Linked DNA regions of Homo sapiens: regions 1, 2 and 4 are each linked to region 3. Evidence: fine-mapped expression QTL. A gene starts in region 3. Each other region holds a variant in brackets. All regions are shown on one strand. Distances are from middle to middle.

Region 1 (8,000 bases), 60 kb after region 3:
CTCCAAGTCACTCTCCACTTGCCCAGTATCTCTCTGCTGAGGAAGGGGCTAAGAGGTCTGAGGAATTATGACCCCTGCCTACCTCCTGATATTACTTACATTGTGAGGAGACCTTTAGCCAGCTGGGAGGCCAAGGATGGTATGGGATTGGGAGTAAGGCAAGATCCATTTGTTGAGCAATGAGAGTGTTGAGAAAGAAAGAAAAAACTCTACAGGTGGGAAAAAGGAAGTAGAAAAGGAAAAGAGAAGATCCTGGAGAGGGAGATGACCTAAGAGAAGAGAGCAGGTGAGGAATAAGGGTGTCGAGGAGGCAAGGGGCTATCCCTGGGGCTCTAACCTGTGACCAGAGGGTCCAGGGAGCTGTGGCTGAGGTTTTTCTTACCACTGCGAAGCCCACCATGGCTGGACAGCTGCAGGGCTCTCTCAGGGCAGTTCCAGCGGTCCCAGGCAAACTGATACTTGCATTCTTCAATACCACTCTGGGCACCAGCTGCCACACTGCTGGAGTAAATCAGGTAAGCCTGTAGGGACATAGGGGTAAAAATTCAGACTGAACTTAGGAGGCATTTACCCTAAACTGACCAAACAGCCCTCTTCCTGCTCACTCTCCCATCCCTCCAAAATAATGGAGTAAGCCTTTAAATATGCTGTCTCATTTGACATCACAAATAACTTGTGAAATAGGCACTATATTATAGATTAGGAAACTGAGGCCCAGGGAGTGAGCTAAAGTAATTTCCCCAAAGTCCCAGAGCTAGCAAATGGCAGAACTAGAAATGAAACTCAGTTTTATCAGACTCTAGTCCCTATTATCCTTTATTCACCTTTCTTCACTATACTATCCTGTCTCTCCAAAATGAGCCCAAATCACCTAATTCATGAAATTTAAGGAGTTCTCATCACATGACCATCTTAGAAAACAACATTTTGGAACTGAAAATGCCCATGAATGTAAAGATCATGTAGTACAATTCCAGCATTTTAAACATGGGAAACTGCATCCCACCACGGGGCACTGAGAAGGATGTGTGACTTTGCAGCCTGACACCTATAAAAGGCTGTTGACTTTTATGGCTCTGGAAATTCTAGCCATAAATTCAGTGCTCCTGCGTTCTTATCTTGGCGCTGACAGTGGTTTGCTATGTGGTTTTAGATGTGTCCCTAACACCCTCTGGGTCTCAATCTTTCTATCTGTAATGTATACAGCATAATAAAATATGTGGATATAATGAAAAATCTGCATTTATCATCTTTAGTCAACAGGCTAAGATTAGTGAAATCCATATCAATTAATGGAATTTGTTCTTACCTTTGGACCAGTCATCAGGAAATTGTTCACCGACCTATAAGGGAAAAAAAAAACAAAAACAGAATATAATGCAGAGACACCAACTTGTTTCTGCTTCCAAGAGTGGTAAGAATTACTTCAGCACATGTCATTAATAGGAAGAAAGGGAAACTAGTTTTACCCAGGAAACACTGTGCATAACAAACCTACTAAAGATGATTTACAGCCAGGTGGGGTGGCTCATGCCTGTATTCCCAGCACTTTGGGAGGCTGAAGCAGGTGGATCACTTGAGGTCGGGAGTTTGAGACCAGCATGGCCAAACATAGTGAAACCCCGTCTCTGCTAAAAATACAAAAATTAGCGGGGCATGGTGGCAGGCGCCTGTAGTCCCAGCTACTCAGGAGGCTGAGGCATGAGAATCACTTGAACCTGGGAGGTGGAGGTTGCAGTGAGCCGAGATTGCGCCACTGCACTCCAGCCTGGGCGGCAGAGCAAAATTCTGTTTCAAAACAAAAAAAAAAAAACACACACACACATAAAACTTAGTAGAAAAAACATGAATAAAAGTAGTATCATTTCCTTGCATTGTTAAAGCCAGGTAAAATTTCCAGTACCATATACCTGATAGTGATGGTTGCTGATTATTCTGCCATGAAGTGGGGGAGAGAACTAGCATTAACTCCTGACTATGTTCCTTATGCTCTACTCTCGGTATTTTACATGTTGATCTTGTTAAATCCTTACTGTCTCAGGCATTATTATCTCTATTTTGCAGACAGGAAATCTGAGACTCCAGAAAAGTTAAACGTGTGTTCAGGCTCACCCAGCTAATAAGTGAGTGAAGCAGGATTTGAATCCACATTCATCTGACTCCGTGGGACGTTAGAAGGATACTTCTCTAATTAGGAAGAGGTAAACAAACAGTGGAATATCTCTCTAGGGATTGAGTCATAATAAAACTCTAAAAATAAGTAATGCGATTTGGAAAAATGGTTTGGCTGCCCCTTTTAAAACTAAAAATGGGCTGGGCACAGTGGCTCACGCCCATAATCCCAGCACTTTGGGAGGCTGAGGCAGGTGGATCACCTGAATCCAGGAGTTCAAGACCAGCCTAGGCATCATCATGGCAAAACCCCGTCTCTACTAAAAAAAAAAAAAAAAAATAGCTAGGCATGGTGGTATGCGCCTGTAATGCCAGCTACTCAGGTGGCTGAGGCACAAGAATCGCTTGAACCTGGGAGGCAGAGGCTGCAATGAGCTGAGATTGCACCACTGCACTCCAGCCTGAGCAACAGAGTGATATTCTGTCCCAAAAAAAAAACAAAAAAAAACTAAAAATGAACTTGTCATATGACTTAGCAATTGCACTCTTGGGCATTTATCCCAGAGAAATAAAGACTTACTTTCACTCAGAAATTTGTACCTGGATGCTCATAGCCACTTTATTAATAATAGTCAAAAATTGGAAACTACCCAATGTCCTTCAAAGGGTAGTTTAAAAAACTGTGGCCGGGTGCGGTGGCTCACGCCTGTAATCCTAGCACTTTGGGAGGCCAAGGCAGGCAGATCATGAGGTCAGGAGATCGAGACCATCCTGGCTAACATGGTGAAACCCTGTCTCTACTAAAAATACAAAAAATTAGCCAGGCGTGGTGGTGGGCACTTGTAGTTCCAGCTACTCAGGAGGCTAAGGCAGGAGAATGGCGTGAACCTGGGAATGGAGCTTGCAGTGAGCCAAGATCGCGCCACTGCACTCCAGCCTGGGTAACAGACCGAGACTCCAACTCAAAAATAAAATAAAATAAATAAATAAATGAATAAAAAATAAAAAACTGTGGTACATTCATACCATGGAATATTACTCAGCAATAAAAAGGAATGATACGTTGATACATGCAACAACTTGGATGAACCTCAAGGAAGTTACGGAGTGATTAAAGTCAGTCTCAGAAGGATACATACTGCATGATTCTATTTACATAACAATAGTGAAATAATAAAAATTATATAATTATAGAGCTGGAGGACAGATCAGTGGTTGCCAAGGATTTGGGATGGGGGATGGATGTGGCTGTAAAGAGTAACATGAGAAAGTCTTGGGGGAATGGCCAAATGTCTTTACTGTGGTTATACAAGGCTACACATGACAAAATTGCATAAAGCCACATACATGAGTACATGTACACACAAGTGCATGTAAAAATGGTGAAGTCTGAATAAGCTTCATGGATATCGTACTAACGTTGTAAGATGTTCACACTGGGGGAGGTTGGGGCAAGTGTACATGGGACTTCCCTGTACGTTTCTTCCCTGTACATGTCTTGCAACTCCATAATTATCTAAAAATAAAAAGTTAAATATATATGTACATATACACATGATCTGCAGGGCTAAAGACTTGGAGAATGACTTCAGTATAGGCATTTGAAAATCAGAATCTATTATCTATTATCTTTGTTTTTCCATTATAATGTGAGAAAGTAATACGGGAATCATTATGTATTGTTCCATG[C/AAATC]TGGTGTACCCCTGCAATTCTGAAGGCCAATAAGATGCTGAACATCACCAGAAAGGGGATTGGAAATGAAATAGACCAAGAAAGTTTCTTGTCAGGCCAAAAGAGCTTGGCTGACTTTCTTCATAAAAAACACATACAACACCAAAAATGTGAGTAGTTTTTGAAAACCAGTATTAACAAACTAAGAGGCTGCCATATGAGATGAAAAAGATTCTAAACGAGTTGTAATAGAATTTTAGAAAATCAAAAATACTATGAAGTCTATCAAAACTAAGGCCTATTTTTTTTTTTAGACGGAGTCTCACTCTGTCACCCAAGCTAGAGTGGTGCCATCTCGGCTTACTGCAACCTCTGCCTCCCAGGTTCACACCATTCTCCTGCCTCAGCCTCCCGAGTAGCTGGGACTACAGGCACCTGCCACCATGCCCAGCTAATTTTTTTTTGATTTTTTTTTTTTTGTATTTTTAGTAGAGATGGGGTTTCACTGTGTTTGCCAGGATGGTCTCGATCTCCTGACCTCGTGATCTGCCCTCCTCGGCCTCCCAAAGTGCTGGGATTACAGGCGTGAGCCACCGCGCCCAGCCACCAAGGCCTACTTTTTAAAGCTTGGTAGGCAACCTTAATTCAACTGAAAAGAAGCACTGCTTGATCAGGTGTAGTAGCACCAGCAAAACACAAAAATACAATTCAGAATGACTTAAATGAATTCACAATTTCCAAAGCCATTATAGGTTTGGACATGAATTTCTGATCCTTAAAGACATGTCAGAGGAGTCAGCCAGGCCCCTTTGCTTTGGGGAAAGGGGCCTGAGCTTGTTCCCACTCAGAAAGGCACTTTTTATGTTAGGAATAACATTCAAAGATTTTGGACATTACCAAGCCTGACAGAGCTAGTTCCCATTTTCCATAAGACAGAAATTATCAGGAAAGAAAACAAAACAACAAAGCAAATTGAGTGACAAAGAAAATGCTTTGCCATAGCTGGGGTGAAGAGTCTTCCTGTGAAAGGAGTCTAAGCCGGAACTACAGGGAGTAATAGACAGAGATTCTAGAGAATTCTTTCCTGGAAGATCCTACAATATGCAAAGATTTGTATGATATCCAGGTCAAGCCCAACTGATCAATGAATGAGACTTAATTGAGCACCTGTCATGGAACAACACTATAGGCCTTATTTGGACAACATTCCTATAAAGTGACTTGTGTTTTTGTTTTTTTTGTTGTTTGTTTTGTTTTGTTTTTGGAGACAGAGTCTCACTGTATCTTGCTCAGGCTTGAGTACAGTGGTGTGATGTCGGCTCACTGCAGACTCCACCTCCCGGGACTTGTGTTTTTCTGTTTGTTTGTTTTTTGAGACGGAGTCTTGCTCTGTCTTGCCCAGATTGGAGTGCAGTGGCATGATCTCGGCTCACTGCAGCCTCCGCCTCCCGAGTTCAAGCAATTCTCCTGTCTCAGCCTCCTGAGTAGCTGGGATTACAGGCGTGTGCCACCACACCCAGCTAATTTTGTAATTTTTGTAGAGATGGGGTTTCACCATGTTGGCCAGGCTGGTCTCGAACTCCCAATCTCAGGTGATCCGCCCACCTTGACATCCCAAAGTGCTGGGATTACAGGCGTGAGCCACCACGCCCAGCCAACTTGTGTTGTTAACCTCCGAGTTATTTGCAGACATATTTGAACCTTATGGCTAGCTTGTTCATATCCAAAATATCCTATATTAAGAAAAGACTCAGCTGGGTGCAGTGGCTCACGCCTGTAATCCCAGCACTTTGGGAGGCCAAGGCAGGCAGATCTTGAGGTCAGGAGTTTGAGACCAGCCTGACCAAAATGGTGAAACCCCGTCTCTACTAAAAATACAAAAATTAGCTGGGCGTGGTGATGCACCCCTGTAATCCCAGCTACTCAGGAGGCTGAGGCAGGAGAATCACTTGAACCCTGGAGGTGGAGTTTACAGTGAGCCAAGATCGTGCCACTGCACTCCAGCCTGGGCGACAGAGCGAGACTCTGTCTCAAAAAAAAAAGAAGACTGTCCTGTAGTGAGTACCAAAGGAGGAGGATCTTGTTCTTGGTCAATGAAACAATGACATGATTTCCTTTTGGGGGTAAAATATAGATTGCAGAAAACATAGTGAGTATTGTGAGAAGATGCAAAGAGAACCAAAAAGGAAGGAATTTAAGTGTTTGTATGGGTGCCACCTCTATGTGGCAGTTATGTGATTGAAGGAAAGATGCTAACAAACACTGAAGATGTAAATTTAAGATATAAATTTTGTTTAACAAATGGAGGCTGCTATATAGACAGAACATGGTAAAACAGTATACTCCCAGATGGAGGTACAAGCTTCCCATTTCCCATGAGGTTGTACAGTTGCTGACAATATTACCCAGATTCAGGACCATTCAAAGGGTTCATGACTTCCTGAACCCTCCCAGCTCTTCTCAGACATTTGCTTGAACTCTAGACTTGCATATCCAACTGTATTCTTGGCATCTCTCCTTCAGTGTTTAATACGCATCTCAAACTTAACGTGTCCAAAACTGAACTCCTGATCCTCGCTGCCATCACCCAAGCCTACCCCTTCTGTAGTCTTCTCCATCTAAGTAAAGGACTGTTCCTCCTAGTTGCTCAGACAAAAATCATGAAGAGTCACCTTTTTTTTTGTTTTTTAAGACAGAATCTTGCTCTGTTGCACAGGCTAGAGTGCAGTGGCGCCATCTTGGCTCATTACAACCTCCACCTCCTGGGTTCAAGCAATTCTTGTGCCTCAGCCTCCCAAGAAGCTGCGATTACAGGCATGCACTACCATGTCCAGCTAATGTTTGTATTTTTAGTAGAGATGGGGTTTGGCCACGTTGGCCAGGCTGGTCTCAAACTCCTGACCTCAAGCAATCCGCCTGCCTCAGCCTCCCAAAGTGCAAGATTACAGGCATGAGCCACCATGTCCAACCCATAATAGAATATTTTTTGACCATATAAAGGAATGAAGTACTGGATACAAGCTACAACATGGATGACCCTTGAAAATATCATCCTGAGTGAAAGAAGCCAGACACAAAAGGCCATAAATGATATGATTCTATCTATATCAAATGTCCAGCATAGGCAATCTCATGGAAACTGACTAGATTCACAGTTTCCAGGGACTGAGGGGAGGAGGAACGGGGAGTGAATGCTAATAAATAAAGGGTTTCTTTTTGAAGTGATTAAAATGTTCTAAAATGGATTGTGGTGAAGGTTGCACAAATCCATGAATTGGCTAAAAAAAATCATTGATTTGTTAAAGGGTGCCTTTTATAGTATGTAGATTATATTTCAATAAAGCTATTATTTAAAAATCTCACTTATTCTTGAATAAGTACCAGTGCAGAAGCCACAACCAGCACACCTTGAAGCCTCACAGCAACTTTTCTCTGTTTCATATGAAGGTTTCCCTTTCCTCTTTTATACTTAAGTATGGGCTGCCTTAATTATCTCTGTATACCCTCCAGTTCCTAATCTAGTACTTTGAACATAGTAAGTGCCTATAAAAGTGAATTGAATACAAGGATTTTGAAATAAAAAAGATAGACCATCAGATGCAGCAGAAAATGTAAGGAGAAAAAGAACTGCAAAAAGATTTTGAGAAATATAGGAAGCCTGTGGCAAGCCAGTGCTCCCACTAATTTTTTAGTGTAGTGAGCAGATGACTGTGCCACATTAGGAGATGATCAACTACAAGAGTAACAGAGTGAACACTGAGCATATGTACACAGAGGTTAGTGCTATAATCAAACCTTTAGCAAAGTTAATCTGACACACTTAGTGCTGTGCATAATTGTTATTGTGCTTCATAGTAATTAGGCATAAGTGGTAAGCGATTTACATAAATAACTGTGGTTAGTTGTGCTTTTACACTGCCAAGTCAAAATTTTACAATTGTTTCTTCTTCTTGTGTTAGCTGTCCAGTATACGTGTGTGTGTGTATACACTGATATAAAGTTTAATCATATCATGTAATAATAACTAGCATTTATTCAAGTATGTGAGGAACTCTTCTAAGTGCTTTACCTGTATCATCTTTTTAAATTTCCGTAGCAACTCCATGGGGTGGGTACTATACTTTTCACTGAGTGTTTATTCTGTGCACACGAAGTACTTTTATTTATTTATTTAGAGAGAGGGACTTGCTCTGTTGTCCAGACTCAAGAAATCTTCCGGC
Region 2 (8,140 bases), 32 kb after region 3:
TGGAGCCAATCAGAGCTCAAGAGATATCAAACTTTACCACTGGAGGGCAATAAAGCTCCACAGACTAACATGCTACCAGCCAGATAAGAGTTAGGATGGCTGGTGGGTGGAGGGTGTATATGGGGTAGTTGGTTTGTGCTCATTACTCGTTCTAAGAGTTTCTGGGAGGCAGATGAAAGTTGGGGAGAGCAAAAGACACCACAAGAAGGGATGGGAGTGCTGTTTATCACAGTAGAGCTTTCGCAGGGTTGGGTAGGGCATTGGGCCCAGCAAAGAGGGAGGAAGAGTAGGACCCCAGACATACCATTGTCCTTTTTATGGAGGGGGGGGTCAGCTTTGTTCTCCCTGTATGTGGCTCTGCCATGCAGTTGGGGGTCTGGTCTTCTGTCTTGGAGAGGCTGTCTGTCAATCTGTAACTGGGCCCATCTTTTTGCTTCCTGGCCTTTTCTCTTTCTTCTGTGCTTACAGTATCATGAGGTAAGTTAAGTTTCAATTTGATAGCATCTTGTGGTTTTTCTCTCGGCCTCACTCTCTCTTGGGGTCTTGGGTATCTGTTTTCCTCCCTCCCTCATCTTCCTCCTTCTCTCCCTCTTTTTTTGTCCTAGACAAGAGGGCTGTTTTTTAAAATCTTGACTCTATCCTCTTAGTAAAACCTTGGGTAGGAGTAAAACTTAGATGTGCCTGCCATCCCCTCTGCTTCTACACTGATACCCTAAAGGATCCTCCCTGGAAAATTCAACTCCCAGCTTCGCAACACTGTCTTAGTTTGGGTAGCCCCATGTCTATTCTTGGACTTGCTGTGGGTGGCTGGGAGCAGTGGAACAGCAGATGTCACTTTGTCCAGGGGGTGACAAGTTGTCATCTTTCTGTCCCCATCCTGCCTTAGCAGCCTCCAGAGGACATCAAGGCACTGTCTTGGAACCGGCAAGCCCAACACATTCTGTCTTCTGCTCACCCCAGTGGCAAGGCAGTTGTGTGGGATCTCAGGAAGAATGAACCTATCATCAAAGTCAGTGATCACAGCAACAGGGTGAGTATTGGAGGCCAGAACACAGGCTTGGGCTCTGGCTTCTCTCTCCTGCCTAGCAGTTAGAGCTGCTCTGCCCCAGGCCAGAGTCCTGCTTTCAGCTGTCGGACATGTGGAGTCAGCCGCTTAGCACATTTCCTATTGAGAGTGAAAACTTAGGGAAGCTAAACAGAGCTGATCTGGAAGCTTCTGCCATTCCTTACTTATTCCTGGCCATCACTCTCTGATGCCTGTGGTGTTCCCAGTCACAAAAGAGACAGAAAACTTGCTCTCAGAGTGGTCCCATTTCAACTGGGCAAAAGAGTCAGGTTACAGCACCCATTGGGATCTGCTTTGTTCACAGATGCACTGCTCAGGCCTGGCCTGGCATCCTGACATAGCCACCCAGTTAGTGCTGTGCTCAGAGGATGATCGACTTCCCGTGATTCAGCTGTGGGACTTGCGCTTTGCCTCCTCGCCCTTGAAGGTGCTGGAGAGCCACAGCAGGTAGCATCTCAGACGTCATCCATATCCTTGGGGGGATGGTGGATATAACTGGGCTGGGTAGGAGGCAATGTATCCCTCACTTTAGCTACTAAACATCCTCCCTGGCTTTAAAGCCATTCCGGTCAACATATAGTCACCCAATACCTACTCCAGCCTTAACCAAGAGGAGGCCCTTAGACCCTGAGGTTATGGAGAGGAGGCTGAGATTCCATCTAAATTCCAGAGATGGGAATGGAATGGGGTAATGAGAAATACTGGAACCAGTGTTTAGCCTCCAGGCTCTGATATGAGGATAATGTTCATTTCTTTAGGTGATGAGCTTGCCTCCTCCAGGATTTCTTCATAAAAACAACTTGACTCCTGTCTATCCTGTGGAGGCCTCTATCCAGCCTCCACAATCTCTTCTTTCTAACCAAAGGGCCATGGTGCCTTTGTATCTCCTTGGGTACCTTTATTTTTTTAGACCAGTTCTTGCTCTGTCACCCAGGCTGGAGTGCAGTAGCGTGATCAAGGCTCACTGTGACCTCGATCTCCTGGGCTCAAGTGATCCTCCCCGCTCGGCCTTGCACAGTGTTGGGATTACAAGCATGAGCCACTGTGCCTGGCCTCCTTGGGGACTTTAGATGGTTAGGTCTTTACTACCTCCTGGGCTAAAAGCACCCATAGTGATGAGTGTTTGTGTGATTCATACTGATTCATAATCTCTACTGTCTAATCAGTGAAAAGAAGCAGGTCATCCTGCAGTGATCTAAGAGAGGCAGAGTGGTACATTGCATAGTGCACAGGCTCTGAGGTTTGGTTTGGGTTCTGACTCTGCAACTGTTGGAAAGTTACTTAATTTTTCAAAACCTCATTTTATTCATTTGTAAGATAATATCAGACCATGCATTTTATAGGGCATGGATGGTCTGATATGCCCTATAAAATGTATAAAAGACATATAAGGCACCCTACTCATAGTAGGCATTCAACAAATGCTAGTTCCTCTTCCCTTCTCTTTTTAGGGGGATCTTGTCAGTGTCATGGAGCCAGGCTGATGCTGAGCTGCTGCTCACTAGTGCTAAGGACAGCCAGATCTTGTGCCGGAACCTGGGGAGCAGTGAGGTAGGCTGGCCCTTCTGTGGGCATGCTGGGATGGGAGAGAGAGGGTAGAAGAATCTCAGCTGCAGCCATGTGTTTTGGGTTTCATGGACTGTCCCTAATGGTGTGTTCCCTCATATTAGGTGGTATATAAGCTACCAACACAGAGCAGCTGGTGCTTTGATGTGCAGTGGTGCCCTCGGGACCCTTCAGTGTTCTCTGCTGCCTCCTTCAACGGCTGGATCAGTTTGTACTCTGTGATGGGTAGGAGCTGGGAAGTCCAGCATATGAGACAGGCTGACAAGGTTTGAAGGGCTTGGTAGAGAATGCTGGAGGGAAGGGGCTGTCTCTGTTTGTGGGAGAGAGACATATGGCTTGAGAAGCGGAGATATTGGAGATTGGGAGACCAGGGCCCGGGGTTTGGGAGGGCTGCACCTTTGCCCTAGTGCCCATCTTCCTGAAAGGATGTTAGTTTCTGCCACAATGTGAAGAAGGCCTTCACCTTGACTCTTGTTATTGGATGGGCCCTGTAGTATTTCAGGGACCGTGGGACCCCTTTGCTGGGACAGTTATTTCAAGAGTATGACTCTTATCTTTCTCTCTTCTATAGATCCATTTTGTGCCACACTCCATTGTAGACTTTGAATGTAGTAGTCTTTCCAAGAGCCTACTTGCATGGGAGTCCCACCCTCGCTACCACTCACTTCCCCATCCCCTGGAATATGGGAGTCTGACCTTTCTAGGTCAAATTGGGTGTCTCAAGGATTCCTCCCAAAATGGAGTTTGTAGGTGGAGTTCCTGACTAAACTGCCACTTTAGGATGGCGATGCAGGTGTCTTTTCCCCCCAGATCTCCTCTTCCTTCAGCAAAGGCCAGCCTCTCCCACCACTGCAGGTGCCAGAGCAAGTGGCACAAGCACCACTGATACCTCCCCTGAAAAAACCCCCCAAATGGATTAGAAGACCAACAGGTGTTTCATTTGCTGTAAGTGTAGTGGATGTATAGGTGTGTGTGTGTTTGTGTGTGTGTGTGTGTGTGTGTGTGTTTGTGAAGCCTACCATGTGCCCAGCATGGAGCTAAGTTTTGTAGCAGACGTATTCCCACTGCCTCTGTCTCAGAATGGATCCCACTTTACCTCTCAAGGAGAGAGTTACTATAGCTTCCTTCTCTTCACTTCACCCATTCTATATCTTCTGCCAGTCCTGTCTAAAAGGAGCTGACTGCCTTAGAACTCTTGGTTGTGGAGAAATAGCCTGAGATTCCATCTTTTCTCTAACCCTTACGTGTCTGGACTGGTAGTAAGGAACTACAAAGAAGGCAAAAAAAAAACCATTTTATTCTGTCATTTCTCTGTTCAAAACGTTTGAGCCTCCCATTGCTTTATAGACAAGGCTAAATTTGCACAGGGCTCCACTTACCTTTCCATTTCTGTCTCATTCTCATATGTTCTCTATGTTCCAGTTACATATGACTTCTTTCTGTTTTGTAAATAACTCCTCAACTCTTCCTGTCTCTGCTTGTACCCTAACCTTCAGCTTCTCTCCTGGGCCCATTGAATGCTACCACAGCCTTTCAAGGCCCCTCTCTTAAATACTATCTCCTCCTTGATGCCTGTCTTTAACCCAAGTCAAAATTAACCTCTCTCTATAATCCCACAGACTTATACTTTGGTAACGATACATTCTAACTATACTAAAGTTATTTATATACATATATGCATATTACCCTACTAAGTAATAGACTCCTTAAGGATAGGGACTATGTCTTGCTGATTTTTATATCCCCAAAGCGGTGCTTCACAAACTATTAATGTGCATCCACATCACTTGGGGATCTTATTAAAATTCAGAAACTGGTTCATTGAGTTGGAAGTAAGGCCCAAGATTCTGATTTTTCAGCAGGCTCCCAGTTGATGTCCTTGCAGCTGGTCGGAGGACTAGCACTTTGAATGACAAGGCCCTGAAGCACTTGGTACAATGCTTTAAATATTAGGTTTGAATTGAAAACAGATGTATAAAAGCGGAAGTTCTTGTTTTCAAAGCCAACGGTTTTACTGGGGAGGCAAGACTAACACATTCAATAGGCTGTGAGCTTAAA[A/G]AGAAAAAGAAGTAGGGAGGTAAAGAATTCTGAGGTCAAGAGGCCTGAATTCTTATCATAGCTCTGTCATTTATTAGCTGGGTAACCTTGAACAATTCATTTAACCTCTCAGGACTTAACCGTTCTTATCGGTAAAACAGGGATAGTGATGCCTGCCCAGAAAATTAACATGAACCACAAATAAGAATATATGTACACACTTTGTAAAACTATCAAGTACTATATAAATCAAAAGTTAAAATGGTTTTGTTTAGCACTAATCTGTGGTGTAGATTTTGTGCTGCAGAAGTCACGGTAAATAAGAATTCTGACTGGGAGAGTTCATTAGGAGGTGGATATTGGGAAAAGAAATGGTGAATAGTTAGGGAGTAAAGCAATAGTTATCAACGCCAAATAATCTGTACAACAAACCCCCATGACACAAGTTTACCATATAACAAACATGGACATTTACTGCATTGGATTGAATTTTTTTAACCTAAAGTAAAAATTAAAAAAAAAAAAAAGTTGTCGGCCAGGCGCTGGTGGCTTACTCCTGTAATCCCAGCACTTTGGGAGGCCGAGGCAGGTGGATCACCTGAGGTCGGGGAGTTCGAGACCAGCCTGACCAACATGGAGAAACCCCTGTCTCTACTAAAAATACAAAATTAGCCGGGCGTGGTGGTGCATACCTGTAATCCCAGCTACTTGGGAGGCTGAGGCAGGAGAATCGAGTGAACCTGGGAGGCGGAGGTTACGGTGAGCCGAGATTGCGCCATTATACTCCAGCCTGGGCAACAAGAACAAAACTCCATCTCAAAAAAAAAAAAAAAAGTTGTCAGCCTTGGATACACATTGGAATAACCTGAATAATTCAAAAAATACTGATGCCTAGTCCCATCCCCAGAGTTTCTGATTGTATTGTCTGGGGTGTGGCCTGGCAAGTCTGGATTGTTCTCCATGTGGTTTTAATATGCAGCCAATGTTGAGAACTGCTGGAGTAAAAAGGGTTTTTCTAAGGTCCTGTTTTGTGCCAGATGCTTTATATAAGGCATCTAATTTGGTGAGACGGATACTCCAGGTGGGGGTGTTGTGGGTAAAGGCACAGAAGCAGGAACACACCAGGCATTTTAGGGATGTGGAGCAATTATAATAAACAAGCAGGGAGAGAGATGCTGGGAAAGATAGGTTTGGCCCTGATTTTGCAGAGGTTTGTGCACTGCAGGAAGGGGAGCTTAAGCTCTTTCCTGTGGCCTTGTGAAACCACACAGGCTCCTGAATAGCAGCAGGTTGGTACAAGCAATAGAGGGATAGTCTAAGGCTTAATTAGAGGAGGGAAAAGAACAGAAGGCTAGCAAACTATTTTAGTAATCTGGGGGTACTGGCACTGGGAATGGGATGGAGGGGACCTGCATGAAAGACAGTGAACAAGAATAGGTAGGACTTTGTCGTTGCTTGGCTATAGGGGGTATGAAGACTTTGCTAATGCTGAGGTATTTAGCCCAGGTGACTGGGAGAATGGTGGTACCAGGACAGGTTAGCAGAAGGTGAGTCTTGTGTGGTGAAGTTTGAAGTGGGTGGTCCTAAGAGTGCAGAAGTGGTTTTGGTAGGGAGACGAATTCAATACTAAATTCCTGATCCTATTCCACCCCCCAGGAACTCTCTTATTTTATTTATTTCCTAGCCTAGGGTCAGCCATTAGATAGCCTTCTCTGTGAATCTGACTTAGTGTTACTTTTTGACTTGAAGGTATAACCTTTACCCTTCTTGCTTTTCCTCACCAGTTTGGAGGGAAGCTGGTTACTTTTGGCCTCCCCAGCACCCCTGCCCATCTGGTGCCACAGCCTTGCCCCCGCCTAGTCTTCATCAGTCAAGTCACCACAGAATCTGAATTCCTGATGCGATCAGCTGAGCTGCAGGAGGCCTTGGGATCAGGAAATCTACTGAATTACTGTCAGAACAAGAGCCAGCAAGCTTTACTGCAAAGTGAAAAGATGCTGTGGCAGTTCCTGAAGGTGGGAAGCCTGAAGGCTAGCTGCTCAGAAGTGTCTCCCCAAAGCCTGGAACTCCAACCTCTGTCAACTGCAGGAGAAGCACAAGCACACTGGGACCCAGATCACAGAGGCCTTAACTCCCATTAGTTTTTCCCCCACACTATACCCACCATCTAGACACAAAACGTTCACCCTTTACCAGAGGCTCAAAGGCCATTTGGGAAGAGGCTAGGAAAGATGGGGAATACACGAGATGTTTTCTTTTGTTGCTACTATGGTTGATGTCCTAGGTATTTTACCAGGGCCAAGGCAAAGACCTTCACGGTATCATGCCAAAGGGCAGATAAGGTAATGGGAAGGAAGAAAAAAGGGAGGAAAGAGAAAAAGAGGAGAAAGGAAAAACATTAGTTAGAAGGACATATTGTCATAAGAAGGCTTTGAGTTGGTTTCAAGTAACCCAAGGCAAGTCCTTGGAGTGGGTCCTAGGGTTCAGGTGCCACTGTACACTGGAGGCATGGGTTCAGTTCCAGTTCTCATTTAATTTCAAGTTTCCTGTGACACCAGGAGGAGTACTATACCTATCAAAGGAAATGAGCAAGTGAGAGATCTGAAGGAAGAAAGGCAAGTAGCTGACTGGTCAGTCAGTGGGATGATTGTGCAAGTTTTTGGAATTGTTTAGAAGAAAGCAAAAAGGATTGGGCCTGTACCAGGGCATCTGAGAGGGACTTGAAATTTGAGCTTTAGGCATAGTAGAGCTTTATGAAGGTGGACATCAGGAAGTTAGAGAAAGAGGATTTGAGAAAGATCTTGACTATACAGTGAAGCCAGAGAATGATGTGGGAAGAAAAGAATAAGAAATGATGCTTTTGTCATAAGCAGGATACAAGTTCCAGGAATGGTGAGATGGTAAAGAGAGGGAGTGGTCAGGAGTTCAGCCTTTACTCCGCTAAACAAAGGAGACAGTGGTACCTATAGGACAGAGGGACCTATAGGACAGGGCATTCTGGGTTTTTTTGTTTTTGTTTTTTTGAGACAGAGTTTCACTCTTGTCGCTCAGGCTGGAGTACAATGGCATGATCTTGGCTTACTGCAACTTCTGCCTCCCGGGTTCAAGCAATTCTCCTGCCTCAGCCTCCTAAATAGCTGGGATTACAGGCACCTGCCACCACGCCTGTATTTTTTTTTAGAGACAGGGTTTTTTTTTTTTTGTATTTTTTGTATTTTTTTTGTAGTAGAGACAGGGTTTCACCATGTTGGCCAGGCTAGTCTCGAACTCCTGAACTCAGGTGATCCACCCACCTCAGCCTCCCAAAGTGCTGGCATTATAGGCGTGAGCCACCGCGCCTGGCCAGGCATTCTGGTTTAAAAGCTACCCAAGAGCTGTCCATCATGATGGTTCCTGGTTGGGTGTGGTGAACATTTCCAAGGGAAGGGCATGGAAGGAGAAGGGTGCCCAGAGAGACTATGAGAAAGGTAT
Region 3 (8,114 bases):
TATTATGTTTCTTTTAGAGCTGAGTAGGCTGAGGCTTAAGAAAGTGAAGTGGCTTGTTCAAAGTCATGGAGCTAATAAGCGGTGAAGACAGGATTAGAAATCAGGTTCATATGACTCCAAGCCATGCTGCTTTTGAAAGATTTCTTACCTTCCATGCCAATGAGCAGCAGGTTAGAGGTAAGCTGCCCCCAGCCACGCTTTCCCTGTTGCTTATTAATCCAGTTCCAGTTAAAACCTAAGAAGTCCATGACAATCTTCCTGCCCACAGTGTCATTGAGCGTTTGCTGCAGATACAACCTATGTTCCCCAAGAAGAAAATCCTATTAGTGCATGCACACACAGCCCCTGGCATGGCCTCTCCACATCTGAAAATCCAAGCCCAAATCCATACCAGCATCTCCCACAGAGAACAGATGTAGTCAGGCAAATTTTAGCCAACATGGATTCTCATACAACTGAATTCTTACTTATCCTTCATTGAGTTATGTTCAACACCAAATTTTTTAATTTACTGGTTTTTCTTTGTTTTGTTTAAAGAAACAAGGTCTCAATATGTTGTCCAGGTTGGTCTTAAACTCTTGGGCTCAAGCAATCCTCCTGCTTCTGCCTCCCAAAGTGCTGGGATTACAGGTGTGAGACACTGCATCTGGCCCCCAAACTTTTTCTTTAAAGAAGTGATGCTTAACCTTTTTTGGGTCACAGAATGACTCCTTTAAGAATCCAAAGAGTAGGAGGGTGAGATGAAAAATAAAATTAAAAAAAAAAAAAAGAACCTGGAGAAGAAGTCCCAGCTACTCAGGAGGCTGAGGCAGGAGAATCACTTGAACCTGGGAGGCAGAGGTTGCAGTGAGCTGAGATCGTGCCATTGCACTCCAGCCTGGGTGACAAGAGCAAGACACCATCTCAAAAAATATAAATACATAAATAAATAAATAAAAGAATCCACGGAGGTTCCCCATAAAAATGCACATACACCCAGAACTTTCACACAATTTCAGACTCCTAGAAGCCTATCCACAGACCCTAGAATGATGAATCAGTCTCACTCCAGAGACTCGCAGAGCCTGAGACATCTCCGTTGGCCCTTGATGACCACTGTGGTAAATTGTATTACTGTTCACCAAGAGCTGGTTCCCTCAGTGTGCGAGTTTTCTTTCACATCCCCTTGAAGCCAGGCTTGCTTATTTACGCTGCTCTGGCCAAGGAAATGTCCACAGAAGCGACTTGTGTTGTTTCCAACTGTAATTTAAGAACAAGTTACCACTACCACATCTCTTTCCTTCTGCCACAGCAACTCCAAAGTTCTAGATAGTAGCTGCTGGGGCAATCTGGGTGCCAGAGCAAGTAAGATGATGTAAAGAACAATATGACATTACCCATGATCAACATGTAGTAAGTGAGAAATAAGCCTCTGTTGTTTCTAGCCCGAGCTCTGGCTTGAAGCCTAGTTTATCTTAACTGATTCAGCCACCTATCCTGTTGCAGCCTTCTACAGCTAAAGTAAGGAAGATAGCTTATTAGGTAAAGGCCTCAGGCTCCTAACATACCTGAGGAAGGTCATAAGTTACTTAAGAGATATGAAAACCCAGACACACTTGAACAAGCCCACAAGAGACATTTAATAAGTGTGCAAACCTAAAAAAAAGACAGAAGCATCTCTGTCCTGGTCCTGAGATCATTATTTCAAAAGGCTCAAAGAGGCCAGGTGCGGTGTCTCACGCCTGTAATCCCAGCACTTGGAGAGGCCAAGGGAGGTGGATTGCCTAAGCTCAGGAGTTCGAGACCAGCCTGGGCAACATGGCAAAACCTTATGTATTTAAATAAATAAATTGGTTATTAAAAATACACAAAATTAGCTGGGCATGGTGGTGGCAGCACATGCCTGTGGTCCCTGCTACTTGACAGGCTGACGTGGGAGGATCGCTTGAGCCTGGGAGGTGAAGGTTGCAGTAAGCTGAGATCATGCCACTGCACTCCAGCCTGGGTGACAGAGCAAGACCCTGTCTCAAAAAAAAAAAAAAAAAAGAAAGGTTCAAAGGCATCTCATCTCACTGCCTAGAATCACAATGTTTAAGGCAATGTTAATCAGAAATCTTTTTTTTTTTTTTTTTTGAGACGGAGTCTCACTGTCACCCAGGCTGGAGTGCAGTGGCGCAATCTTGGCTCACTGCAACCTCTGCCTCCTGAGTTCAAGCAATTCTCCTGCCTCAGTCTCCCAAGTAGCTGAGACTACAGGCACGTGCCACCATGCCCAGCTAATTTTTGTATTTTTAGTAGAGACGGGGTTTCACCACGTTAGCCACGCTGGTCTCGAACTCCTGACCTCAGGTGATCTGCCTCCCGAAGTGCTGAGATTACAGGTGTGAGCTACCATGCCCAGCCTTAATAGGAAATCTTGATGAGTTGGAAACACTACCTTTGTAGGAACATGAAATCCTCAAGACTCAATGCAACGCTCCCCAAAGATAATAATTATATATTCACCCAAAAAATATGCAAGTAACTTTGAAAGAGTCAGTGATACTGCCCATATATGAATCTAAACAATATTATGATTACACCAGAATGGTTAATGCTCAAAATAGCTCAGAGGATCCTAATACATTTCACCCCATAGTCGCCACAACCTGTCCAATCAGGTTGAAGTGAAGCTGACTGGTGAAGCTGCTCGGTGCTAAAGTCAGCTGATAGGGTAAAACTTCCAAACAATTAAAGATTTTCCTTGAAAACTCTTTAATCACCCATAAAGTACAGATTACACTCATTCTTATGCAAAATGCTCTCACTATGGGACACAAGAAACTTCAAGCGACTGAAGAACCACAAGATTCACATATCTTATGCTTATTCTTGGGTATATGTTCATTCAATGGAATTACACACTCCAACAGCATCATTTAAATCAATCTTTCTCTCAATGTTGGGTGTGTGTATATGGAAGTGTGCACACACACACTGTGTTAAATTTTAGAAAATTAATGCATGAGATAACTGAACCAATATATTAAGACATCATGGACAGATCGACCACAGTTCATATCTTGGAAACTCTTCTGGTCAAAAATCCCATCATTATGACAACTGCTAAGTGTTAAGAAGAAGAAAAAAAGATATTTCAAATCCATTCACTTAGCCACAGACTGCTGATAAGGAGTCAGGAACAGGAGTGAGTGAAGCAAGAGACTAGAGAGAAACCCAGGGTTGGACACCAAATGCGAGAGGGTAATTCACCGTGAAGTACTGAGCGAAAGCAATTCCCCAGAGGCAGTGTTATAGTGTGGGACTGAATACTGTCTCGGACCTACATAAGAGGCTGTCCTCATAAGCAGGAATAAAAGCAGAGAGGAAGAATCACTGTCTTGTGTGTCTTGTGTTGCTGTTGTGATAGGAAAAACAAATTTAATCTGATCTTCCCTAAGCTAGAGAATCCTAACCTTCTTTACTGCAGAATCACAACAAACTATACAACTTTTCAGGTTGAACTATCCTCAGTCATCACAATACTTAAGGACAATGGCTACAAACAGGCATTTTCAGAGCTAAATCCAGTGACAAACATTTTTGTTTGGCCCCCTGCAACTTTTTTTCTTTAAATCTGATTTAGTTGCTCCATTTAAAGTCAAAAGATTTTAAATAAAAATCCTGATTTTGAACTTCTCTTGAAAATCGGAATATCTCCCAACCCTAGAACTGCACTCCAAAACTGAAGCAAGCAGAGTCAAGTAATGACCTCTCACCATGGTTTTTTGTTTTAGTTTTTAATTTTGCAGAGACTAGCTCTCACCACGTTTCCCAGGCTGGTCTTGAACTCCTGGACTCAAGCAATCCTCCCACCTCGGCCTCCCAAAGTGCTGGGATTACAGGCATGAGCCACCCCCGCCGGCCTTGGCTTCTCACTTTGAACAAGGCTTATGCCTTCAGCCTCATCACTGATTTCACACAGACGATATTACTCCTTCCATTCACCTGCCTGACCCTTCTAGGCAACTAACTCTTTATGAGGAAGAAGATGGGAACCCAGAGATTCATAGCTCAAGTTTAATCATTCCCTCATCCCTCAAGCTACAGAACTAGCTGGCTGTAGCACCAAGAACCACTAAGAACTCAAACCCCTTAAAGGCTGGAAGACCAGACTACTCCTTCAACTGGAATCCAGAGATGGGAGAGGCCAATCTCTAATTGACCCAATTCTGCCACACCTTCAAACAAGTATAGGAAAGAAAAATGAGTGTCCTAAATCCAACAGAAAATTAAGCTTTCGGAATTTACCTCTCTTCCCCTCCTCGCTGCTGTATATCCTGCAGTTTCTCAACGAACTCATGAAATTTCATTTCTTCCCTGTTGGACCTCGGCTTAAAGTTCTGGAAATTGGCCATCTTCTTCTCATCATAGTACAAGAACTTGTGGGTGCTGGCACTGTACACAGAGAAGTCTCCATTGCCAATATTCTCTTGCAGGTATTCAAGGTCCCATTTCAGGGCAGGATACACAAGATTTGTGTCGGTCAGCACCACAGGCTCCTAAATGAAAACAACAGGTGAAAAACACCAAATGAAGTAATGCCAAGGAGCCGGTGGGTTGGCCTCCATGATCCCAACTACTTCTCAACTTCAGAATAATTTCTCCTGTTAATCAGCACGAACCCCTAAGTTCCGTATCTCCTCGCCTTTCTCTCCATCTTCCCATAGGCCCTAGTCTAGAGCCCTGCCAGTCTCCCATCTCTTTCACCATTCACCTCTGACCTCTCAACCGGGTACCTTCCTCCTCTCCCTTTAGACGCGGCCCCGCCCCCCACCTCATTCTCAATAAGCTCCTCTGCCCGGGGGTCGCTCTGACTCAGACGCGGAATGGGCCTAGTCGGGAAGCTATAACTGCGCAACTGGGATTCATCCCAGGCGGGGCCGAGGGCTCCAGCCTCCTCCCGGGGCTCTCCAGAGCCAGAGGCCACAGCCTCCGCCGCTGTCGCCGCCATCTCCGCCGCCAGGGACGGCCCCCACCGGAACCGGAAGCTCCGCCTATTCCGGACCCCAAAAAAAAAAAAACAAAAAAACCACACACCCAACGGAAACCATAGAGATGAGCTGCGAGAGAGAGCGGTCCAGAGACATAAAGAACGCGGAGCCGAGGCCTGAGGGTGCGCCTCCTAATGGTAGTATGCAGCTCTACATCCTAGGCTCCACTGCTGAAGAAATGGGGCTAGACACTAGTCCCACGGAATAGGGACGACCTGGTAGAGCAAAACACAAAAAAAGTTGCCCCATGTGCCCGAGTCTACACAAGAGTCAAAGAAGGAAGCAAGTTCAGTTAGGCATTAAACTTTACACTCATGAATGGGGAGAAAAGCAAACTCTTGACCCACCTAAAGAAGTCAGAAGGAAAAGCAGTGATCACATTGGTAGATGTAGAGCAAAGGCTGACTGAAGGCTTAGGCAAAAGATATACAGCAAGTTGAATTCTTTCAAAATCAAAGACAGTTTTCTTTTGTTTAGCATCATTTGATTTTTCTGCCTATATCACCATGTCTCCTACTTGAATATATGTTTGCCGTGAATCGAATGTTATTAGAGGCCAACCATGGACATCTCACATTTTCAAACAATCTATACTGATTATAAAAGGCCATATTAATACCTCTATTGCTTACTTGGACAGTTCTTATGGCTGGCTGTGAGAGGCCCAATTCTAAGATGTATCCCAAGATTTGTACCCTACGGTGTACACATCCTGTATACATTTCTCCCCTTAAAAGAAAACACGACTGTGAATATGATAGAGCATCACTCCTGTAATTAGGTTAGCTTATATGACAAGGATGTAATTAAAGTCCCTAATCAATTAACTTTAAGGCAGTCAAAAAGAGGTGATTTATCCTGGTGGGCTTCATCTTATCACTCTAGCCCTTTAAATCAGGGCTAGAGGTCAGAGACAGAATCTAAGAGATTTGAAGCCACAGCACAGCTGTCCTGTTCACCTTGAAGGAGCAAACTGCCATATGGCAGGAAATGGCAGGTGGACTCTAGGAGCTGAGAAAGGCTCCTGGGTGACAGCCAACAAGAAAGTGGGCACCTTAATCCTACAAATGCAAGTAACTGAATTCTGGCAACAACCACTGAACTTGGGAAAGGACACACACGGAGCCTCAGATGAGATCGCTAACCCAGCCAACACCTTGATTTCAGCCTGATAAGACCCTGAGCTGAGGACTCAGCCAACCAGTACCTGGACTCATGGAATATGTGAGAAAATAAATTGGTGTTTTGGGCTGCTAAATTTACAGTAATTTGTTATGCAGTAATAGAAATGAATGCACTGGCTTAACTATGTAATTATGCTACATAGTAACCATGCTACACCAAACCGATAATAGGGCTACCTCTGTGGAAGTGTTTGAGGCTGCAGGGGGCAATCAAGGCTTTCATTTTATCTGCAGTGTTTGAATTTTTTTTTTTTTTTTGAGCTAGGGTCTCACTCTGTCACCCAGGCTGGAGTGCAGTGATGCAATCTTGGTTCACTGCAACCTCCACCTCCCCAGCTCAAGCAATCCTCCTACCATAGCCTCCCAAGTAGCTGGGACTAAAGGCACACACCACCATGCCGGACTAATTTTTTTTCCTTCTGTAGAGAAAGGGTTTTGCCATGTTGCTCAGGCTGAATGTTTGAATTTTTACAAGAATGTATTAATTCATAACCTTGGGAATTAAAAATAAATTAGGCCAGGCATGGTGGCACATGCCTGTAATCCCAGGACTTTTCAAGGCTGAGGCAGGAGGATTACTTGAGCCTGGGTGTTCCAGATCAGCCTGGGCAACATAGCAAGACCTCATCTCTACAAAAAATTTTAAAAATTAGCTCGGTGCGTTGATGCATGCCTGTAGTCCCAGCTACTAGGGAGGCTGAGGTAGGAGGATTGTTTGAGCCTGGGAGGTGCAGGCTGCAATGAGCCATGATCATGCCACTGCACTCCAGCCTGGATGACAGAGCAAGATCCTGTCTTACTAAAAATAAATAAATTAATTAAGATCAAGAAGATTAAAAGAACTAAAATCAGTAATGAAACAGGGATATTACTGCTGACTTTACCCCCCAAAAAAAGCATATAAGGACATACTGTAAACAATTGTATGTCAAAAAATTACAGAACCTAGATGAAATGGACAGATTCCTAGAAAGGCACAAGCTATAATAGCTGATTCAAGAAGAAATGGAAAATCTGAATAGACCTGTAACAAGAGATTGAATTAGGAATCAAAAACATCCCATAAAGAAAAGCCCAGAAACTGGGCATGGTGGCTTACATCTGTAATCCCTACACTTTGGGAGGCAGAGGCAAGCGAATCACTTGAGCCCAGAAGGTCGCGACCAGACTGGGCAACATGGAGAAACCCCATCTCTACCAAATCCCCCCAGCCAAAAAAAAAAAAAAAAAAAAATTAGCAGGCATGGTGGCACGCCTGTAGTTCCAGCTATTCGGGAAGCTGAAGTGGGAGGATCACTTGAGCCCGGAATGTGGAGGTTGCAGTCAACTGAGATTGCACCACTGCACTCCAGCCTTTTGAGACAGAGCTAGGCCTTGTCTCAAAAGAAAAGAAAAGGCTGGGCACAGTGGCTCATGCCTGTAATCTCAGAACTTTGGGAGGCCGAGGTCGGGGGGACCACCTGAGGTCAGGAGTTCGAGACTAGCCTGGCCAACATGGTAAAACCCCCATCGCTATCAAAAATACAAAAATTAGCCAGGCATGGTGGTGCACGCCTGTAGTCCCAGCTACTTGGGAGGCTGAGGCAGGAGAATCGCTTGAATCCCGGAGGCGGAGGTTGCAGTGAGCTGAGATCGTGCCACTGACTCCAGCCTGGGCAACAGAGCAAGATTCCATCTCAGGAAAAAAAAAAAAGAAAAAGAAAAAGAAAAGCTCAAGACCAGATAGATTTACTGATGAATCCTACCAAACATTTTTTAAAAAATTAACACTGGTCTGGGTGCAGTGGCTCATGTCTGGAATCCCAGCACTTTGGGAGGCCACGGCGGGTGAATCACGAGGTCAGGAGACCGAGACCATCCTGGCTAAAACGGTAAAACCCTGTCGCTACTAAAAATACAAAAAAATTAGCCGGGCATG
Region 4 (8,140 bases), 28 kb before region 3:
CATTAATGAGCCCTCTTTATCATACCATTGATCTCTCCTTTGTGGCACTTCTCACACATGAAGTTTTTCAGTCCCTACCACTAGACTGAAAGCCCTATGAGGGCAGACAGTGTCTGTTTTTGCTTCCCATTGACTCCTAGGACTTGTACCTAATAGTCTTAAGGGCAGACTGTGTACTGGGCACATAGTAGGTGCTCAGTAAATATCTGCTGTGTGAATGAATGAAAAACACAAATTACATTTTTAAAAAACACTAGAGGGAGAGCTTGGCTGGATGTTAATAAGTCCTAGAATGCTAGAATTGGGAATTGGGGGAATCCTGAGTTTTTGCTCCTGCTGTGTGACCTTGGGAGAGTCCCTTCACTTCTCTGGGCCTTTCTCATCTGTAAGTGAAGAAATTGGGCTTTCAGAATGTGCTCCATGGAGCTCTAAGGGTTCTCAGGGGTGTCTAGGGCTGCTATGGGTAAAGGTTAGAGCAAGGGTAAATTTCAGCCAACGTATTTCTGCTTTTCTCTCTCTCTCTCTCTCTCTCTCTCTCTGTGTGTATGTGTGTGTGTGTGTGTGTGTGTGTGTGTGTGTGTGTGTGTGTACATTCAGAATTGAAGGTTCTAAGGTTAAAAATATCCTTGGAAACTCCTGGACTAGGTGAGCTCTAGTTCCCTTACAGAATATTACAATGCAATAGAGGCAAAAATGGTTCCCAGTCAGATAGCAGAGCACGAGCTGCTTTTTATCTGCAAAGTTATCTAAGTGGACTCCATATCTGCAGACTCAACCGAGGAAAGGAGCAATAAGAATTGAATGAGCCCAATTGGAGGAGGATTCCTAGAGGAGAGGAGTTTTCAACATCCCATGCAGATTCCTAACTCCGGTGACAGACTCAAAGAGACCAGGGAGCTGGTGGGGGAGGGAGTCGGGGCGCCACTTCTCAGAAGGGACTGTGATCAAAGCAACAGCCAAGAAAAGCCTAGTTGGGCCTGAATAGCAGTGGCAGATGATGACTGGGGGAAGTGGGAGATGCAGGGTGGCCCACACACTGTTTGAAAGCCCATATGCACTGAGGATGGCAAATAGGAAAAACTCTAAAGTCAGGTCACCTTACGGGAGCAGAGCTTTCTCCTAGGGAAGGGAATGCTGAGGGCAGAGGAGGCAGGGAATCCCCTGGAGCCAGATGAGTGAGGACACAGGCTATTTTTCTCCATGTTCCTTGAGGCCAGGGCAGAGGAAATAGCCTCAAATTGGGGGTCAAGTGTGTGTGTTGCGGGGAGGTGGAAGTCAGAGAATAGAGCCTGGAGAAATCCACTACTTTGGACCTGAGGTTGGCTGAGGTTGGGGGTGGTTCCCTGTGAACCCTAGTTCAGGGAAACGCTCTTCTCCTGCTCCCTTCCCCTCTGCAGGCCTCAGTGTTTCCGCACCCCACCACCGCCCCGTTCTCATGTACACACCCTCTTCAACTTGCCTCCTGAACCACGGCTCGGTCCACTCTCCTTGAACTCCCAAATTCCTCCCGCCCCTGAGTCATCTTCACCCTCAGCAGCTCCACTGTTCCTGGCTTCCACCCTGCTACTCTGCCAGCTCCTAGGCCTGTTCCCTGCAGCCGGCAGCGCTGGCAATGCCCTCTCCTAGTTCTCCAACCTCTCGCTGACTCTCCCAGCAGCTCTCTCCTCACTCCCTCGCTATGCAGAAGGGGCCCAGCCAGGCTTAGGATGCAGGTTTCCAGTGCTTTACCCCTCCGCTTTTTCCTATGACAAATTCGTCTGCAAGCAAGACTTCAAATTCAACTAGCAACCCCATAGGAATGACCCTCCAAGGGGCCCTATTTTATATGTGTATTGAGTGTCAATAGATGTGGAAAAATGACTCCCAAATTGGTACTTCAGTCCTAACTTCCAACTGGCATCACTAGCCCCTCACTAGACAGCTCCCAGACTCCCCAGCATCACCTGAAATTCACTGTGATCACCTTGAGTCCCCGACCAGCCCATCTCTCCCAGAATTCCTTCCCAGGTCATGCACCTGCTAGGGCCAGCCCAGCCCACTCACCACTCCTTCATCTTCACACGGAGTTTTCCTTCAAATGTGCCTCAGTGTGGTCTTTTATCTGCATGCTCCAACCCCAAACCCCAGACCAGCCCAGGTGTCTTTACCGCCTTAGGGGTTGTTCCCAATCCCCAAATGGGCCCCCTTTTTATCCCTCTCTAACCCAACCTCTTCCCTGGCTGCATGAGTGATCTCCCCAAATACATCATGTCCCTCATCCAGAACCCCATGGCTCTCCATTGCCCCTGCTTACTGTCCAGATCCCTCAGCCTGCCTCACCCCCACCCTCCCCTCCAGGAAGCCTTGCCCCCTCCTAAGTCTGATTCTTTCCAGCCCCTCACAGACCTCCAAGCTCATTTCCATACCTTTTCCAGCTGCTCCAATAGCTGGAGCTGCAACTCTTCTGAGGAGTTAAATCCCAAGCACCCTTTCCAGCTGAACTTCTCCACACTCTCAACTGGGTATGAATGGCCACTTTTAACACTCCTGGCTCCTGCCACCAAAAGTCAGTAATTCCCTGCTGCCCCACCCCATTACTCCCTCTCCCTACCCCCACAAAAAAAGTCAGTAGTTCCTCCAGGACACTGTTACAGCAAAAATGTCCCTTGTTGAGAACCACTGGTTGGATGCTACTCTCTTGCCTTTCCCCATGGGACCTTCTCTAAATGACTAATATGCCTCAGGACTTTCTTTCACCTGCCTGTAAGTCCTTAGCTTCTGGCTGGAGGCTGTAAGGAGTGATGATGATGAGGAGGAGAAGGAGGAGGAGGAGGAGGATGCTGGCAATGGCAGCACCCTCTTAAGCAGCACTTTCTATGTACTAGACACTGTTTTTTTTTTCAAATCTTCTACATATATTCATTCATTATCATTACAACCCTATGAGATAGTGTTACTATTATTCCTGTTTTTCAGATGAGAAAATTGAGGGAGAAATTAAGTAACTTGCCCAAGGTCACCTACCTAGTAAGTAGCTGATGAAAAGGCATAGCAGAAAGTCAGACTTTGGAGCCACTTCTCAGAAGGGACTGTTATCAAAGCAACAGAAAAAAAGCCTTTCGAAAACCAACTGTCACCAACTGGCTGTGTGACCTTGGCCAAGTTACTTCCCTTCTCTGAACCTCAATTTCCTAATTTGTAAAATGATAAAACAGTACCTAGTTCGCGGTGGTTTAGAAAGGACTCGTGAATATAGAACACTCCTTGGCATGAAGCAAGCACTCCCTTTCTGTACCTCCTCCTGTCCTTCCCTCCACTCATAGCCTACCTCAGATACTTAAAAATCATGACAATGACAATGCCTCACATTTGAACTCAGGCTCTTGAGTCCAGGGTCCAGGCTCTTGACCCCACACACTGCATGGCTGCCCATACTCGTCTATCGGGCCCTCCTGGGCCAGGCTCTGGCAGTTGTCCCTCCCTTCCCCAGGGAGGCCCCTCACTGTCCTCATCGTGTCCTGGCCCCTAGGCCCCTCAGCCTGGCACTGAGCCTATCATTTGTAATCAGGTCAGACCATGGCTTGCTTACTCCATCCTGCCCCAAGATGCAGCATCAGCTTCACCCAAGGCAAATCCCAGCCCAGCTGCACTGCACCTCCGCCCTACCAGGCAGTACATCACACGCCTAGATTGCTCCTTTGACTCCCAAA[CAAAT/T]TCTTCACAACAGCATTTCCACCCCTCCCTCTGTGTCCGTCCAGCCCAGCCTCACCCTGGCCACCCTTACCTGAAGAAGCCAACCTCAACCTTTACTCTTACTTTTAGGAGATCAAAACCTGGGTCCAGGTTGAACCCCATGACTTCCCCTCCTTCTCCCCATTTCTCTGAGGCTTCAACCTCCTGCAGGCCCTGTCCCCCCTTCCCTCTGGAACTCAGCTCCTTCAAGTGTCTGCTCTCTCTGGTAGCTTCCATCTCCCCCTCTCCAGTGGCCCCTTCTCCTATGTCCTCTGTCTACAGATTTGCTCCTCTTCCCCTGGCTAAAAAAGCGTTGCTGCAGTTTCCTTTTCAAAACCCCAACCTGTCTCCAGTCCTCTGTGTACTTCTCAACGGATAACCTATAGCAGTTTATACTTGCTATGCCCCCATTTCCTCTCCACCAACTCACCCTCTAACCCCTACCATTCTGCTGACCTCTTCATCCCCAAATCTAATGACCTTCACTAGGGCCTCACTCCTGTCTCCTGCACTCAAACCCCTCTTCAGAGGTGACCCTGGTTCCCACCCCTCCTGTGTCGTTCTTCCTCCCTCCCTCTCACTGAACTCCACCCTCAGTTCCACTCCTATTTACCTGGGAAATGACTCTCAGGCATGTTCACACCTACCCACCCCCCGCCCAAACCCTCTTTTCTCTCCTTTTCTCCTTGGGTGTTCTCATCTGCCTAATCCTCACTACCTCTATGAAGCTGAGCCCAACCCTGTTTCTTTCCCCTGGGTTCCAGCCTCATACCTCCTGTTGTTGCCAGATACTTTCTGTTGCAGCCAGACCCCTCTGCCCTACGAGCTCACTGTGCTCCAACAATGGTCAGAGCTGTCCTCTTCATCTCTTCACTGCCCTCCAAACCTCAGGAAATTCAGGCCTCTGTAGCTTTGCTCCCCTGAAGACCAACATGTCACAGTGTTCCATCCATATATACATATTTTGGAGACAGAGTCTTGCTCTGTTGCCCAGGCTGGAGTGCAGTGGCGCAATCTTGGCTCACTGCAACCTCCACCTCCTGGGTTCAAGCAATTCTCGTGCCCCAGCCTCCCAAGTAGCTGGGATTACAGGCATGCATCACCACACCTAGCTAATTTTTGTATTTTCAGTAGAGACAGGGTTTCACCATGCTGGCCAGGCTGGTCTCAAACTCCTGGCCACAAGTGATCTGCCTGCCTTGGCTTCCCAAAGTGCTGGGATTACAGGTGTGAGCCACCACACCCGGCCCCAATATATTTTTTCTTCATTTTCATAAATTCATAATCAGGGGGAAAAACACAAAAGATAAATTTTCCCCATTTAAAGATGCAGCTCTAGCTTCCCTCCTTCAAGGGGCCTTCTTTTATAGGCTCCTACCCACCTCTGAGCTCCCAGGTGTTCACCATCAAAGCTCACCACCCACCGCTTGACTCTGCTGTGTCTCTCCCTTCTCTAGGCAATGCACAAGTCCTGTCTCCACACCAGGTACTGGGATCCTCAGAGGCTTACGAAGCTCGGCCTTCACTTAAGGTGTCTACTCTCCAAGACCAAGCTGGGGAAGACAGCATCAGATGGTTTGTAAGTTCTCTTCCAGCTCCAATATTCAAGGATTTGGAATTTGAGGGTTCCTTCTATAACGTTCCTCTGGGAAAGTCTTCAGAGTGTCTTCAGTTAGCAGATATCCACATGTTTGTGAGCTGCTGACAAGAGTGCCCCCCTTTTGGGGAGTTGAGGCCCAAGAGAAACCAAGAGGATCATAAGATACTGTGTGTGGATGTAGGGGTGAGGGAAGTGTCCTGGAGACGAACTCCCTTGAAAATCTCCAATATGCTAACCTACACACACACACACACACACACACACACACACACACACACACACACACACAGTTCACCTAAACCCCCTGGAGGCAGAAACGTTCCCCTAGAAGCTCTTAAGGAGCATCCTCTTCCCCTCTTTCTCCAAAAAAGGGAATAGTCAGTATCCTGGGGCTCAGTGCCTCACCACAAACCACAAAGCATGGCTGCCCCCATGGGGCTTCACTGAGCATGGCAGCCTCCATTACCCGTCCTCCTGCCCCCATCAGGACAGAACCAACCTCCATCTCCAGCTCTCCAAGAAAAGGCCAACGGACTCCGCCGTTCCTCCAGTTCTTTCCCCTCTCCCACTCCTCCCAGTAGGCTGAGTCCACTCCCTGCAGCAATCCATCACCCTCAACACGCCCGTCCACCCACACCCCCACCTCCCCGCTCCTGAGCGGCACCCACACACATGGACGGTCCTCGGTTCATCTCGCCCTAGGTCTCCAACGCCCATCTGGAGCTTCCAGGGTGCGCCCGGATCCCAGCCCCGGCCGCCTCCTCCCGCCACCCGGGCCAGAGCTGCCTGAAGAGCAAGCCGGTGTCCTCGGCAGCCCCGCCCCGGGCTCTGAGGACTAGATCTCATCCCTAAACGAGGTCAGAGGACCACGGACCTCAGACTCACCTGGGAAACTGGTCACAAATACAAATTCCTGGGCCCCATCCAGAACTGCCGAATTATTCTGGCGGTGGAACCCGAAACCCGCCCTGCCTGCAGCCCCTCCGGCGAGCCCGAAACGGTACAGACCCAGGGCCCCGTCCGACGCCCGACCCCTCGCCCCAGTGCCCCCGAACGTGGCCGCCACTCTGCTTTGAACAGCGAAGGAACTCGAGACAGAGCCGAGCTGGGCTGCGGCCAGCCCACGGCCAGTCGGCGGAAGGTCGGGGGCCCCAGGCTCTTGCGCGGCCCCACAGACCCTTGCGTCAGAAGAGTGGCCCCCCGCGCCATGGGCTCTGCGGCCAGGAGGCCACGTGCGACGTCGCTCAGGCCGGAACACGTGGCTCCAGCAGAAGCCACATCTGGATTCTACACGTGCTGGGCTGCGGGCGAGGTTCTTCCACACCACAGGCGTCTTCTTGCCACCCAGGAGACCTGGGCCGGCAGCTTCCCTGCAGTGCGGGGCCCACGGGCTCCCCGCAGTGGGGAGTGCGAGAAACGCAACTGCGACCTCGCCGCGCACTCCGCTTCCGCCATTGGCTCAGGATCCCTGCGTGGAGCGAGGGCGCCACGCTGCGACTGCAGCAGGGACGGCACGTCCCAGGGGAGAGCGCGGGAAATATGGTGCGTGAGGTCCCAATTTCCAGGTTCCCTCCCACCTCAATGACTCGTTTTATAGCCGCCCCCTCAGGCTGACCTCTACCCTAGACCCCGTCTAACTAATCGCTAATCCCCTGACCTCAGGAAGGCCAGGGATGAGAGTCACAGGCCAATGCCTCTGGGCAGCCATAGGAAGTGAGGAAATGCAGACCCCAAATTTTCCCCTAAATCCTAGAAATATGCTCCAGATAAAAGTCTTTGCCTGGGTTCAGATTCTAGACTCCTGTCCTTCATTCCAGAAATTTCAGCACCATAGAATCACTGGCAAGTCTCGGACAGTATTCAGGCCCACTGCCATGGTGGCTTCCTATCAAAAATATTCTCATTTGTCACTGACCTTAGCAGGGGAAAAGACCTCAGAATTGGACCCAGTGCTCAGAGGTGGCCTGACCATCTCAGAAAGCAGTGGGGTAACACCTCCCTTGATCTGGCTGCTCCGTTTGGTTAATGCAATTCATGGCTGTGTTAGGATTTTAGCAGTCACATCACACAGTTGACTCATATTGAGCTTGCAGTCAACTAAACCCCCCAGGTCTTTTCTTCATGAACTGCTGTCAAGCTGGGCCAACCCCTACAACCGGTACTTATGTCATTGATTTTGTTTTAACCTAAGTGCAGGACTCTACATTTATCCCTGTTAAGTTTAATCTTGTTGGTTCCAGCCCAGTGTTCCAGCCTGTTGAAATCGTTTTGAATCCTGACTCTTTCATGCAAAGTATTAACTGCCCCTCCTAGCTCTATCACCTGCAAACTTGATGAGCCTGCTGCTTCGGTCAGTTGTCAATAAAAATGTCAGAGAGGACACAGGCCCAGACTGAGCCCTAAGGCATACTGCTGGAGACTTCCCTCTAGTCTAGGCTGACATGGATCCATTAATCAACCCTCACTGGGTCTGACTGTTCACCAAGCTTCCTAGCCATTTGGTTCAGATGCTTCTGCCACAACTAGATAACATGAGAGGCTTTGTCAGAAATTTGTCAGAGGCTTTGCTGGAAATTTCTCTTGCCCAGGCTGTGGCCCCCACATCAAGCTTAGGCCTTCTTTCTACCCTCCACACCCCACCATCATTTGTTTACTCATAACTTTAGGGGATTATATTTCCAATGGTGCCCCCTCCTGCATGACTTAATATTTCTGAGCTTCAGGATCACCTTGGGTGTGCCTTTGCTATTTCATATCCCATCATCCTATGCCTCCTCTGAGACCTCATTCTCTTAAATTCTCTGTCCTGCCACCTTCTCTGCCTATAAA

Direction of the effects. Alleles are on the strand shown, and positions count from the first base shown. SD is a standard deviation of normalised expression in the study named. Not every link is listed here.
For the expression in tibial artery of the gene that starts at base 4,988 in region 3, allele C in region 1 goes with a lower level than allele AAATC (small effect, 0.17 SD a copy in GTEx).

Evidence for each region.
Region 1: its variant is fine-mapped to the expression of HIF1AN in tibial artery (GTEx, PIP 0.97).
Region 2: its variant is fine-mapped to the expression of HIF1AN in whole blood (INTERVAL, PIP above 0.99). The same link has a PIP of 0.9 or more in subcutaneous fat.
Region 4: its variant is fine-mapped to the expression of HIF1AN in lung (TOPMed, PIP 0.91).

The regions. Positions count from the first base shown.
Region 1 is chr10:100,472,395-100,480,394 of GRCh38, reverse strand. WNT8B (Wnt family member 8B) reads right to left here. Exons shown (of 6, transcript NM_003393.4): 2 at 1,310-1,343; 3 at 383-521. Among named protein-coding and RNA genes, the nearest start is that of WNT8B, 13 kb to the right of the region's middle. The variant C/AAATC (reference allele first, on the strand shown) is at 3,802.
Region 2 is chr10:100,500,798-100,508,937 of GRCh38, reverse strand. SEC31B (SEC31 homolog B, COPII component) reads left to right here. Exons shown (of 26, transcript NM_015490.4): 6 at 887-1,030; 7 at 1,371-1,513; 8 at 2,518-2,617; 9 at 2,737-2,898; 10 at 3,443-3,577; 11 at 6,454-6,684. Among named protein-coding and RNA genes, the nearest start is that of SEC31B, 15 kb to the left of the region's middle. RefSeq lists a silencer at 2,159-2,359. The variant A/G (reference allele first, on the strand shown) is at 4,691.
Region 3 is chr10:100,532,817-100,540,930 of GRCh38, reverse strand. It overlaps HIF1AN (hypoxia inducible factor 1 subunit alpha inhibitor), which reads right to left and starts at 4,988. Exons shown (of 8, transcript NM_017902.3): 1 at 4,796-4,988; 2 at 4,270-4,520; 3 at 149-297. The coding sequence starts at 4,972. RefSeq lists enhancers at 5,009-5,068, 5,139-5,228.
Region 4 is chr10:100,560,794-100,568,933 of GRCh38, reverse strand. No RefSeq gene overlaps it. Among named protein-coding and RNA genes, the nearest start is that of HIF1AN, 29 kb to the right of the region's middle. RefSeq lists enhancers at 5,749-6,386, 6,389-6,438, 6,549-6,628, 6,387-7,025. The variant CAAAT/T (reference allele first, on the strand shown) is at 3,690.